Linked DNA regions of Homo sapiens. The protein of the gene in region 1 purifies or fractionates together with the protein of each later gene. This does not show direct contact. Each region holds a gene or a part of one and is shown on either strand. Other genes may lie near its edges.

Region 1 (3,500 bases):
TGGACAATTATTCAGCGACGTGAGGATGGCAGCGTTGATTTTCAGAGGACTTGGAAAGAATATAAAGTGGTAAGGACATTCTTTAAGGCATCAGAAAAGAATTTCCCTTGTGAAAAATAGCTTTCAAGATCTGCGGAACCTTAACCACCAATCCCAAACTAACCAATGACTTTTGACATGGTTTTTAAAATTGGTGCTTCAGTCTCCCCTTTAAAGAATGGCCAATATAAGGTAAACTGTATCAAAACAAAAGCTGCAGCCAGACGTGCTGGCTCACGCCTGTAATCCCAGCACTTTGGGAGGCCGAGGCAGATGGATTACCTGAGGTCAGGAGTTTGAGACCAGTTGGCCAACATAACAAAACTCTGTATCTACTAAAAATACAAATATTAGCCAGGTGTGGTGGTGCACACCTGTAATCCCAGCTACTCAGGAGGCTGAGGCAGGAGAATCGCTTGAACCTGGGAGGCAGAGGGTGCAGTCAGCCAAGATCACACCACTGCACTCCAGCCTGGGCAACAGAGTAAGACTCTCAAATAAACAAGGCTGCCACTACTTAGCTTATTTTTAAAGGTGGACTCAGCATTTTTTTGGTAAGCCGACTGTTTAATGGTGCTTCACATTCCCATGAACTGAGCTGTTTATGCCAAGGCTTCTGCTGGTGGCTCCCCAAGTAGTTCTCATTATCCTAATACAAGTTTTCTTCCAGCAGCAGCTTAGTGTCTAATAACTGACCTATTTAAAATCCATTTTCCTTTGGGAAGGACCCTAAATTGTCACAGCACCAGAAGGAATTTCTGCTATTTGATAGTTATTCTATGTTAAGTTGACGGACTATCCACTTCAAATATACAAAGAAAAAATTACATGAAATAATTGAATTTAACAACTTGCATTACAGGGATTTGGTAACCCTTCAGGAGAATATTGGCTGGGAAATGAGTTTGTTTCGCAACTGACTAATCAGCAACGCTATGTGCTTAAAATACACCTTAAAGACTGGGAAGGGAATGAGGCTTACTCATTGTATGAACATTTCTATCTCTCAAGTGAAGAACTCAATTATAGGTAAGTGAGTTCATGGTAATTGAAAGAAAAAATTAAAAGATTTGTGGCCGGGCACGGTGGCTCACGCCTGTAATCCCAGCACTTTGGGAGGCCGAGGTGGGCAGATCACGAGGTCAGGAGATTGAGACCATCCTGGCAAACAAAGTGAAACCCTGTCTCTACTAGAAGTACAAAAAAATTAGCCAGGTGTGGTGGTGGGCGCCTGTAGTCCCAGCTACTCGGGAGGCTGAGGCAGAAGAATGGCGTGAACCCGGGAGGCGGAGCTTGCAGTGAGCCGAGATCGTGCCACGGCACTGCAACCTGGGCGACAGAGCAAGACTCCGTCTCAAAAAAAAAAAAAAAGAAAAAGAAAAAGAAAAAAAAAATTAAAAGGTTTGCTGGGTGACTATTCCAGAAAATGAGAAACACAATGATTTAACCAAGATCTAAACTATTACTTCTTTAAGTTTCTCTGGGTTTAAAATTCTAACTTTGGTTATAACAATATAAAAGAAACTTCATACAAACAGTATTTTGTCCATTGTGTTTACTGTGTATCTTCAAAGCCTAGAAGAACTCTGCCTGGTAGATAATTGGCTTTCATAGGTATTTGTAAAATCAGTGAATAGTAAGTGTTCCCATGATAATATGTCACATGAATAGCATAAATGATGGATACTTGTGACTGTGCTGTTTTATTCCAAAAGGTTTCAAAAGTTAGTCTGTCTTTATGAAGTTTAAACACATTCAATTGTCTTCAATCTCAAAGTCAAGATTAGTTGTCAAGTTTAGAGATGGCAGAGTTAGGTGGGATGGTTAGTCAACTCTGCTCTCCTCTACAGGAAATACATCAGATTCACAGCATTCCCTGGGTGTTTACCTTGTCCTCACCCATTTGGTAGCAATAATCATAAGTAATAGCATGGGCAACCTTGACTGGGAATTTACTTTCTGCCTCTAAAATGCCATGAGAGTAGAGAGAGAGAACAGCAATGGGACTTGACAACCTAGTGTGCAAGATAAGTACGGTGAAGCCACATGCACAGTAATGCTGGTACACAAGGCACATAGAGGCACTCCGAAATGTGTGTGCAACGGGAGGGGCAGAGAAGTGAGACTGTGTGCCCACTGGCACCAACGCCAGCCTAAAGGAGTCTAAAGAGCACAGACTGGTGGCGCCTCGTGATCATGGAGCACACATTATGAAATACCCACTTTGAGGTCAGAAATTAGCAAATGAAGGTCAACACGAACATCACAAAAACAGTCATCATCTGACCTACAGTCTCGTCTTCATCTCATTAATGCCCAAGTCAGACACTCCGCTCCACGACCTGAACAGTCTGAAAGGAGACACAATGTTAAAGTCCTTGAGCAGGCTGCCCAGGGGAGGATTGTGGTGGGCAGCACGGAGAAGCGGCTAAATGTCAAGTTGCCTGAACAACCAACTGAAAACTCTACAATGCCCAGTATGTCCTGCTGTACAAACAGTGGATGAAAATTCAGAAGCATGTTTGAGAAACAGATATACATGGATGTGACTCTTTAAACATCAGTGAAGCATATTCACTATTCTCATTATGGAAAGATCAGGCTCTCCTGGAGAGGCAACAACCGAGATGAATGAGAAGATAGGTGTTTGGGCCTCACAGCAGTTCCAACTTGACTCCAAAGAGATCAAAACTTCAATGAATTTTGAGACACAAGTGGTTGGTCAGTGTTTTACCTCCAAGTTAAATATTTTTTCAACTGGCAACAGTTAGGAATCTACAACAGAAGAATTAAAAAAAAAAAAAAAAGAAGCACAAAAATTAAGGATTAGGCTGTTTGTATAAAAAGATTTTTACAAAATGGGTCATTACCCTTGTACGCTGACATTATAAAAATATTTTAAACTGAGATGGTTCTTAACAGATATTTCCTTTAGAAATGCAATCAATTTTTGGATAGGCCATTTAGAAAAACACACACATTGGTTTAAAGCTTAATTTGCTTGGCAAGATAAAATAGATATTACATCGAAAATTATTATCCTAATAAAACATGATGCTAGCATGATAAGAGAACTGTGAAGGGACTGAAACTTCTCATAACTGCAAATGCTTTGAGACGCCAGTTGTATGCAGCATGTAAGGGATTTTTTTTTCCCAGAAGAAATGTTCCCCAAGTGTTGGAAAACTGGAAAATACATGTTATAAGAAATGCATAAATGCATCAATAGAATTTCATTCTTTCTAGTGAAACTAAAAGCTATGCGTACATTAAATCTTAAAAATTCATCACTTTTCACACACATTCTGGCAGTTTTATATAACACTGAGGTTTAATTGTTAATGTTGATGTTACCTCTTTACTCCACTGTTATATAAAATCATCCCTGGCAAAGCTGCAGAGATTGAAAAAAAAAAATCAACCCATACCAATGTAAAGCAACTTCAAGAACGTGGCCATTC
Region 2 (4,036 bases), on another chromosome or scaffold:
GCTTAGATCACAAACATTTTTTTTCTGGTCTGTCAGTTCTCTTACCCTAATTAAGCTGTTGTACACTTTCATTAGTCATTCTTAGATGAAATTCAAGTAACAATTATTTTTATGGAGTGTTTTATTAACTTTGTTTTTTGTAGTATGTGTTGCTTTTTTTTTTTTTTTGAGATGGAGTCTTGCTCTGTTGCCCAGGCTAGAGTGCAGTGGCACAATCTTGGCTTGCTGCAACCTTCGCCTCCTGGATTCAAGCAATTTCTGGCTAACTTTTGTATTTTTAGTAGAGATGGGGTTTCACCATGTTGGCCAGGCTGGTTTTGAACCCCTGACCTTAAGTGATCCTCCTGCCTTGGCCTCCCAAAGTGCTAGGATTACAGGCATGAGCCACCGTGCCTGGCCTGTGTTGCTTTTTATTCCTTAATTTTTTTATATAGCATCTTTTATCACCTTGTACCCAGTTTTCTATGCAAGTATTTCTTTTTCACTACACAGCTTCCTCGTAAGACTTTAACATATGTCTAAGGTCATTTTACTTTCTCTATCTCTTCATTGTTCTCTTTAAAAAACTTAAATATCTTAATGATAACTTTAATATCGAGATGGCATTTTGGATGAAAAACTTCATCAGCTTTTTTCCCTCACAAATTTAGCATGTAGATATTGACACATTCCTTTTATATTATTCTGCCATTTCTGTAGCATTTCACCAGTATGCAAGTCTGCACATGAAGGTATGCTTAGGAAAACTTAATGAACATCCATTTGTACACCTGATTACCATCATTTCATGCCTATAATGTGCAGATAGCCTGATGAAAAGCAACAGGCTTGTTCCTGGTATTATTCAAGGAACTCATGCTATGTGCTGCCAATAGAGTGGTGTTTTCATTCAGAGAATGCTCCTACTGGGCTCTTTTTCTCTGTCTTTGTTGAAGGCCTTCTCCTAATAACTTCCGAGCTCTCTCTGTCTTATAGTGCCAAGTAAAGAAAGTATCTGAAACCCAAAATTAAGTAGAGATGTTACACAAGGAAATTGTTTTAAGGGTAATTTAAATAATTGGATGTTTAATAGAGGATGCTTTCTGCATTCTTGAGGGGTTCAGACGTAGTGGAAATGACTTATTTATATATGGCTACTTTAAGATTGAGACATAGCTATTGAATTTACTTTGTTACTCCACTGTCCATTTAAACTTTTCTTGAGTTCTTATAATGTGGCAGGTGCAAAAGATGAATTAGAGTACCCTACATTCAAAGAAGCAATTTATCATAAGGTAGGCAGAATAGTTTTGACCAAAAAGTTATAAAATATATTGTAAGACAGGGGTCCCCAACCCTCGGGCCATGGACCAGTACCAGTCCATAGCCTGTTAGGGACCATGCTGCACATCAGGAAGTGAGCAGCAGGAGAGTGAGCATTACCACCTGAGCTCTGCCTCCTGTCAGATCAGTGGTGGCATTAGATTCTCATAGGAGCAAACCCTATTGTGTGAACCCTGCTGTGAAGTGTGCATGCAAGGGATCTAGGTTACATGCTTCTTATGAGAACCTAATACCTGGTGATCCGAGTTGGACAGTTTCATCCCGAAAGCATCCCCCTCTATGTCCAGGGAAGGAAAGGTTGGGGACCACTGCTGTGAGCTACTATTTGAAGACAACCCAGAAGTGATTTTTGCTTGTAGGTTTCCAGGCAAAGCTTGAGAACCAGTTCTCCTATCCTGATGTAGAACCTGGTATGATCTACAACACTAAGAACGTGTACATACCTGTGCTTGTATTACTCTCATTAGGACTACTGTGGCAATGTCCCAAGCAAGCACTATTCAAGATATTGACCCTCAAAAGCAAACTTACCTGAACTGTTCTTTTGTTCTAGTATGCACTCAAAAATCATTTAATTCTGATGAAAAGGGGTAGTTGTGTGATTTTGGGGTCAAATTTTAGACCCGTAGAAAAAAAATTGTATATGTAATAAATTTACATATTATAATTTATACACACACACACACACACACACACACACACACACAGAGTTTCACTGTGTTAACCAACTCTGCTCTAGAAAAAGAACCGATGGGGTTTTGATGACGAGCTGCTCTCTTAGTTATGGGAGGTGGGGACTCTCTTACTCATAGCATTTTTTTTTTTTTTTTTTTGAGACAGAGTTTTCCTCTGTTGCCCAGGCTGGACTGCAGTGGCGCAATCTTGGCTCACTGCAATCTCCACCTCCCAGGTTCAAGTGATTCTCCTGCCTCAGCCTCCCGAGTAGCTGGGATTACAGGCTCATGCCACCACGCCTGGCTAATTTTTATATTTTTAGTAGAGATGGGGTTTTGCCATGTTGGTCTCAAACTCCTGACCTCAAGTGATCTGTCTGCCTCAGCCGCCCAAAGTGTTGGGATTGCAGGCATGAGCCACTGTGCCCAACCTCTTTTTTTCTTATGAAAGACTTTTGCTGAATGAAAACTAAGTTCATTTTCTACCCAGAATCATTTTGCCGTGATGGGAGAGAGCCAACATTGGTGTTTTACTGATGCCAGATATGACTGCATGGAGCTCTATTAAATAGGGCGTGGTTTGGTTGGGAGTTACGTCTTTATTTTGAATTTGTGGATTTTTAAGATAAGTGTCAGAAAGCAGGATTCTTTGTAACCCTGCAATTCGTACAGCCAGCTTTTGTCTACTGTAGATGAGATTTGGCAGCTACTACCCAGAATAAGAAATTGATTTTAAAAGTTCAAGTGAATGCATTCCATATTTAAGATGTACATTCGTTCTAATTTCACAAAAAGGTGAAAAGCAATTGTAAATGTTTCCTTTGCCAGAATAATTTAAGTGACTTAGTATTTAATGAAACAAAATGATTATGGTGATAGCATTTTAGGACTGTTTTTGTCTGCCTGTATCCTGCTTTATTTCCTCCTATATTTCAATCAGTTTCTTGAGATTAAAGACAAAAATCTTTTTTACTTTATCTTCTTTCTCTTCTTGACTCCTAAATGTTGTTGTCCCTGAGAACTCACTCATTGCCCCTCCTCTTTCGACGCTTCCCCTGGCTGAATAACCCCAACTGTGTTCTGATACAGCATACTGTCTCAGGCAGGGCTTCAGACTACAACTGGATGACTCACAGATATCTCAAACAAACATATTAATAATTGAATTCATGGTTTTTCTGTAAATACTAATTTTATTTTATTTCTTGAGACAGGGACTCATTGTTTCACCCAGGCTGTTTGCTTACTTTGTAGCACTTGTAATCACAGCTCACTGCAGCCTCAACCTCCTGGGCTCAAGCCATCCTCCTGTCTCAGGACCCCAGCTCCACCCCCAAAGTTGGGACCACAGGCGCATGCCACCACACCCAGTGAATTGTTTTATTCTTTGTAGAGATGGGGGTCTTACTATGTTGCCTAGGCTAGTCTTGAACTCCTGTAAGTACTTAATCTGCCTTCTGCTTCTCTGCTCTCTAGGCTTTTCTCCCATCAATGCACTCAAGAAGGAAATCTAGGTGGCATTCTTGAATGTCTTTTCTCTCATATTCAGGCCTCCAGCGATTGCTGTTGTACTCCAGATGTTTTTTTCCATCTGTCACCTATCTTTCCACCCACCCTCTTACTGCAGATCACACTCACCTGCTCCCTGAGCTGCGGCCAGTCCTTTGCTTTCCTTGTTCCATTTTTTTCTCCCTCTCCCTTAATGCTTTCCCCATAGGGCATAACATTTAGTTTTCTTTAGTAGATGATTTCATTCTTCTTAAAAAACTCAGTGGCTTCAAATGAACCTTGGGATAAAATACAAAGTTTAACCATGGCCAAAAGGCCCTATTTGACTTAGTTATTGCCAGGCTCCTTGACCTTATCTTGTGCCACTCCCGGCTTGTCCCCTCCTTCAGCCATACCTTTCTTTGTAGCTCCTGGAGATTCAATTCTTTCTTGCCAGGGTCTTTCTACCTCTGCCTCACATATTCCCTCCATCTCTTCATTCCACTTCCCTCATCCCCACCCCCCACTCCCCTCCATCCTCAATACACAAA

What was found.
Region 2: the proteins of ANGPT2 (region 1) and ITGAV purify together in Homo sapiens (affinity purification with western blotting, with the first as the bait; one study listed by BioGRID). This does not show direct contact.

Annotation. Positions count from the first base shown.
Region 1 is NC_000008.11:6,511,246-6,514,745, reverse strand, and holds part of ANGPT2 (angiopoietin-2 isoform b precursor), read left to right. Parts: coding exon 1-69; intron 70-901; coding exon 902-1,068; intron 1,069-1,579; exon of another isoform or gene 1,580-2,769; coding exon of another isoform or gene 2,770-2,814; intron 2,815-3,500. UniProt on the Homo sapiens protein: Binds to TEK/TIE2, competing for the ANGPT1 binding site, and modulating ANGPT1 signaling. Can induce tyrosine phosphorylation of TEK/TIE2 in the absence of ANGPT1.
Region 2 is NC_000002.12:186,596,300-186,600,335, forward strand, and holds part of ITGAV (integrin alpha-V isoform 1 preproprotein), read left to right. Parts: intron 1-3,905; exon of another isoform or gene 3,906-4,035; coding exon of another isoform or gene 4,036-4,036.